Linked DNA regions of Homo sapiens: region 2 is linked to region 1. The links come from fine-mapping of genetic effects on gene expression. A gene starts in region 1. The other region holds a variant in brackets. All regions are shown on one strand. Distances are from middle to middle.

Region 1 (2,918 bases):
CACTGGGCTGGATTGCAGTGGCGCAGATCTCGGCTCACTGCAACCTCCGCTTCCCAGGTTCAAGCGATTCTCCTGCCTCAGCCTCCTAAGTAGCTGGGATTACAGGTGCCTGCCACTACGCCCAGCTAATTTTTTGTATTTTTAGTAGAGACAGGGTTTCACCACGTTGGCCAGGCTGGTCTTGAACTCCTGACCTCGTGATTGGCCCGCCTCGGCCTCCCAAAGTGCTGGGATTACAGGCCTGAGCCACTGTTCCCGGCCATAATTACACTTTCCAAGGCGTACGGGTAGGGATACTAATGCTGACTGTGCAGATGTGTACTTGCTATGTTTGATGTTTACATTAAGGCCTATTGAAGTCGGAGTTTAAAAAGAAATTGAATACATCAAAACCTGTCTTCTTCCAGACTAGTAAATTCAACTACACAGTGAAAATGGAATCTGCTTTTTAAAATCTTGTTTGACACGTGAATGAACCAGCGAGAAATGTTTCCCCCATAATCTTCCATCTCTCGATGCACAGATCTCTCCCTACCATTTGTCTTTATGTCGTGATGGATTAGAAGAGGAGCGAGTAAAAATAAAAGATATTGCAGAATAACCTTTGCCTGCCTACCAACCATCCAATTAGCTCAAGTCCCTAGCTGGCAAATTACCTAGTCAACAATGCCTCAATTATAAACACTACGTGTAACGTGACCACAGATCAACACCCCGTAGGTTCATTTCCCCCACCGCCCCCAATCGGTGTTAGCCTCAGTGAGGACCCGGGAAGGTCTGGAGAGTCATGTCCAGCGTCCACTTAAATCCTCAAAGGCCCAGGAAGGAGGTGGGCGGGCCAGGCCTCGGCGGAACTGACCTCGAGGGACCTGTCGGGAGTCTCCGGGTGAGGGCCCAACCGGGTCTTTCCCTCCGAGCTCGCAGCCATTCCATAGGACGCCGGAGACGCCAGAACCTCCCTCCGCCCCAGGGCGGCCCTCCCCCAACCCTCCTCCCGGACCCGGGGGAGGGGCACCCAGAGGAGAAACACCCCTCCCCCACGGGCACTGCTAGGCCACCGCTCACCCCACCCTTAAAAAACCCGCAGGCCCGCGCCCACCCTCCGGGCCCCGGCCTCGACCAGGGGTGGGGGCGGTGCGGGCAGGAGCAGGGGAACCCGGCTGCCATACCAACCTCGCTATTGAAGGTCTTCACGGCCTCCATGTTGTCGCTGCGGAGGCCCCGAGCCCGGCGGCGGAAGAGGCGGCGGCCACTGCACTGGGTGGGGAGAGCGAGACGCGGGCTGCTGCGTGGCCGCGAGGAGGGGGCGCTGGCGGGAGAGCGGGCCGCTGCGACCTCGGGGCGGAGTGGAAGGGCACGCGCTGGCGGGGAAGGGCTCCCTCAGCGGCAGAGCGGCACCGGCATGGCCGCTAGGGCGGGGGGAGCGCCGTTCTAGGGAACAGAGGCGCTGCCGGGGCGGGTCGGCGGCGGGCGGGGGAGGGGCTGGGCCGCGGCGCCTTCTCTTCTCTGCCCCGCTCCGTTTCGGTCCCCCTCCCTCTAGCCCCTTCCCCTACACTCTCCACTCCCTTCTGCCCCTTCCTCCGACGGGCTCCTGTTTCACCTCCCCGCCGCTCGGGCCGCAGGAACCAGCCCCGCTCGGCGAAGACAGAGGAGGAAGCGCTGGCAGCAGCGGCTGCGGCATCCAATATGGCGGACTCGAGTCGGGCCGCGCAGTTCGGGGATCCGCGGCGCCGGCTAGCGCGCCCCCTGGCGACTGGACCGTGCGAGCCCCGGCGGCCGCGCGGAAACCATCGAGCGCGCTGGGGCCAGAGCGTCGCCGCCCGTAGGCCCGGCTGGGCTCCGCTGCCCTCGCCTTGGCTCCGGGGCCGCCCGCGCCTCGCCCCCTCCCCGCGCCCCGCGGACGCGGGAGTGAGCGCTGCGGCATCCGGGGGAACGCCGCGGCGGGTTTGTACAGCAGGAGGAGGCAACTCCAAAGCGCGGCTCTAATAAGAGCCTAAACGTGCCCAAGAAGCGGCAAGTTGAGGAAATGTGCGCGTTTCCCTTGTTTCCCGGTGGATTGGTCCTTTTGCACAAGCGGCAGGGTTTAGTTGCTTTTCACAACTTTACTGGACAGTGCCCTAAACATCCGCAGCCTTCGCCAAGAAAAAGTTCCTGGTCATCTATTTAGTAACTGAACTCAATTGTTTTAACTGCACAGGGAGGGAACATTAGAAACCAAAGCCTTGGATTCGGGTTGGGGCAGGCGGCGAGGGAAACAGGCATGCAGCAGCTCCTTGCAGGAAATGCCCGCTGCATAGGATCCAGGGACTGGAGTGGCACAATGAGCGCATTTGTCTGCAAGGCGGGAAGGGGACCCTAGAATGCACAACACTTGAATAGGTGAAAAGGGAACCCGTCTGTTTCGGAAGATGAATTGTTCTAAAGGAATTTTGCCCTAGGATACTTGGAGTAAAGGTAAATACAGTATTTCTTAGATGGATTAGGAGATGCTGCTAGTAAAAAGCCTTCTCTCTCGTGCAGCGCAAAATAAGGTACCAATTTAAAAATACTTATCGATGTTAAAAGATAGGGATGTATCGTGGAACCCCGAACACTGCTGTCCTCTTGTTGAAAGTCATTTTTCAACAATCATTCCCAAATTCACTCAAAGGGAGAGAGGAACATAAGGGCAGGATCGTACTTTTGGAGAGTTTTGGAATCAAGGTAGTTCCTAAGAGCTGTGCGCAGAGCCCCGTGAAACTGGGAAAGTAAGGCCCTTCTTGAGGTTTCAGAGCCTTCATTCTACTTCATTGGCAGCTTTAGTATAGGGCCTGGCTACTGAGAAGGTAACAGGGATAACTCACCAAGTGCTTTTATATTTACTTTCAAAATCTCAAATTCTGTCACAGATTTCTCCACCGTCTCCCATCTTCAGGCCT
Region 2 (2,918 bases), 120 kb before region 1:
GCTCAACACAATAATTGGCCCATTTTACATTAAAAAAAAAAAAAACTGAGACAATGAGACATGAAGTAACTGGCCCTCTTTGAGTCTCTCTGAATTCAAATTTGTTCATTGCATTTCTATAGAGATGTGTAAATTGTAAACATTATATACCAACTTATATGGAATAAAGTATACATTAAAAAAGAAAACTGCTACGTAGGCCCATGACTATAAGTCACAATTTCTTTTAAATTTTTTCTTTTCTAAAAAATACAGCCAGTGATCTCTATGGTGTTTTCAAACTCCAAGATATTGTTAAAACATTAAAGGCTTATTCACTTTCTCTTCAACTCTGATCTGGTGCCCAATCTTTCAGAATAAAAGACTAATTACTAAAGATCATTGATATCATGATATATTGTTGAGAATATGGCTTCATAAAGTATACAGTGAACTCAACAGGTCAACATAGCAATAACGTAGTTCATAGTATGAAAAGGAACTCAGTATTTACTTATATTGTCTGTAAATATTACCTGTTTATATTGCAACAAATCAAAAAGTAGCAAACATCATTTTTAGGGTTACAGAATTTTTTTAAAAGTCTCTCTGGAAAGATCCTGACAGTTGCACATGAGGACACTTCCAGGAAGAATTATGGATGAGTTCTTGACGAACTGAGCCAGAATGTTATATATAACTGAACACTTCAAACTCAGTGTAAAATCTGCCCAGCAGCAGTCAGTAGATAATCTTTCTGGTCTTTTGGTAACCTTAAGGATGGACTGACTGACTTAAAATTGTCTGTCAGCATGTGTAGGTGTCTGCCATAGGTAATAACATAGATGTAAATGGCAGCTGGTGTATGAAACACCCTAACTGAATACTGTATTTGGAAAAAGCAAGCTGAATTGCTCAGAAAAGGCAAATATAATACATAAAAGACTGAAGAAGAAAGAAGGGAGTAAAGCAGTCTATATATTTATTGTAGAGCAGAATACATATTTATCGCAACATTATGTTACGTTATCTTTAATCAGAAATAGCATTTTAAAGATGTGACTTAAAAGAGTCTGAAAACTTCACTGAATTATATTTGAAAAAAACACCCCAAGACATTTTAGTAAGACTTAAAACACAAATTGAAATACCAATGTAGAGTTTATATTTATAAAAATAAGAATCAGCATTGTGAAGCATGGTAACTCCTTAATGGAAACTAACCAGAAGTGAGAATTAAAAAAAAAAAAAAATTTAAATATAGTTTGGGACAGAGAATTCTGAATCATATAATTTTAATTAAGGTAAACAGCCTATGTTATCAGCAATTGCTCTTCTAGAGTAACGCTATAAAATAGGACCTCCTGGAAATGTTCTGTACTTGTGCCGCTCAATTTGGTAGGCACTAGCTAATGTGGCTGTTGAGCATTTAAGTGTGACTGGTGTGACTGAGGAACTGAATTTTTAATTTTTTATAAATTTAAATAGCAATAGGTGACTAAAGGCTACCATACTGGACAGTACAAGTCTTGAGTAACACGTGACATCATGCTGTAAAAGGACCCTACCATTACTGTTCCGGAAACTTTCAAAAGTTAAAGAGGAGACTAGGGTTATTCATGTTGGGTGGGCAGGGAAGGGACAATAGGAGAAAAGAAATGTCCAAAGAAACCTAAATT[T/G]TACCTCCATGATTTTAGCAATGTTTCCTTCAAATCCATGGACTAGGGCTACGAATATTAAAAATAAAATAAATAAATAAAGAAGAAAGGGAAGCAGAAATCACAAAGACAGAAGGAAAGATTTCCTAAGTAATGGCCACTAAGTATTAGCAGCAGTCAACATTTATTATGCAGTCTGTTTTATGTATTGTACTAAGCACTGCACATGTATTTTCATTTGACCCTCAAAATGAGTCTTCCAGGTACTTTTTATTTCTAGTTTTATAGATGAGGATATTGAGACTTAGGAAGTTAATTTGCTGAAACAAAAATGCATCTTCTAATGAAAATCTAGCAACTAGCATCCTTTCTCTATGTTCTAGCTGTATCTTACGTACCCAATCTGTTACAGCAATTCATACATTATATTGAAATAGAATTTACTGGTTGTTTCTCACTAAAAGGTAAACTCCTTGAAGGCAGGAACTGTGTTCTGTCAATAACGTAATATCTTTCTCAATTACCTACTGTCACCAATTTTTATCAAGGCATCTGAAATATATATATTATTCAATAAGTATTTGCTGAATTGAGTATGAATTTGTTTCTACATTCCAATGATAAACATGTGGTAACACACTCTCTTTCTCTCAACCCTCAGGCATCTATATTTGAGTTTTGAAACAGGTTGAAAGTCTGTTTAAAATAGCATTTTGTAAACTATTTCAAATAATCTAGAAAGAAACTTGGAACTCTTATAATCCGATAAAAACATTTAACTTTAAGCTATTTTTTTCAGGCCCATTAATTTAAAATGTCACATTTCCCATATTTTTAGAAATATTTTAATAGAAACTTTAATACTGTGACTGAAACATTTCCTACACAAAAGTTGTGCCATATAACAACATTAACCTCTGTATGTTGATGTGTAAGCACGAAGACATACCTCTTAAGGTACTTGAGCTGAACATAGTGCCTACGTTAACTTTTAAGTAATAAAGCTTTGATGGTTTCCAATCTTTTCATCTTATTTATCAATGACACTTTTTAAAAACCTTTCACATTTTACTGAATTCTATTCTCTCCTAATGGGCACATTGCCAGTATCTACTAAGGTAGAGTGAGGCCTAGGACAAACTTAGGGAAGCCTGTCAAAAAATCAGAAAGAACCAAAGAAGGTATTCCCTCAGTCCTAATCCACAGACTTCCACCTCAACATTTCATGAAATTCAATCTATAGGCAAAATAAAAATATTCATATGAGACATGCTCTCAAGG

Evidence for each region. PIP is the estimated chance that this variant, and not a neighbour inherited with it, causes the effect.
Region 2: its variant is fine-mapped to the expression of SCAF8 in whole blood (TOPMed, PIP 0.91).

Annotation. Positions count from the first base shown.
Region 1 is chr6:154,732,186-154,735,103 of GRCh38, reverse strand. SCAF8 (SR-related CTD associated factor 8) reads right to left here and starts at 1,688. Exons shown (of 20, transcript NM_014892.5): 1 at 1,174-1,688. The coding sequence starts at 1,203. RefSeq lists silencers at 916-1,515, 1,666-1,785, 1,816-2,055 and an enhancer at 1,152-1,655.
Region 2 is chr6:154,854,163-154,857,080 of GRCh38, reverse strand. No RefSeq gene overlaps it. Among named protein-coding and RNA genes, the nearest start is that of MIR1273C, 2.3 kb to the right of the region's middle. The variant T/G (reference allele first, on the strand shown) is at 1,659.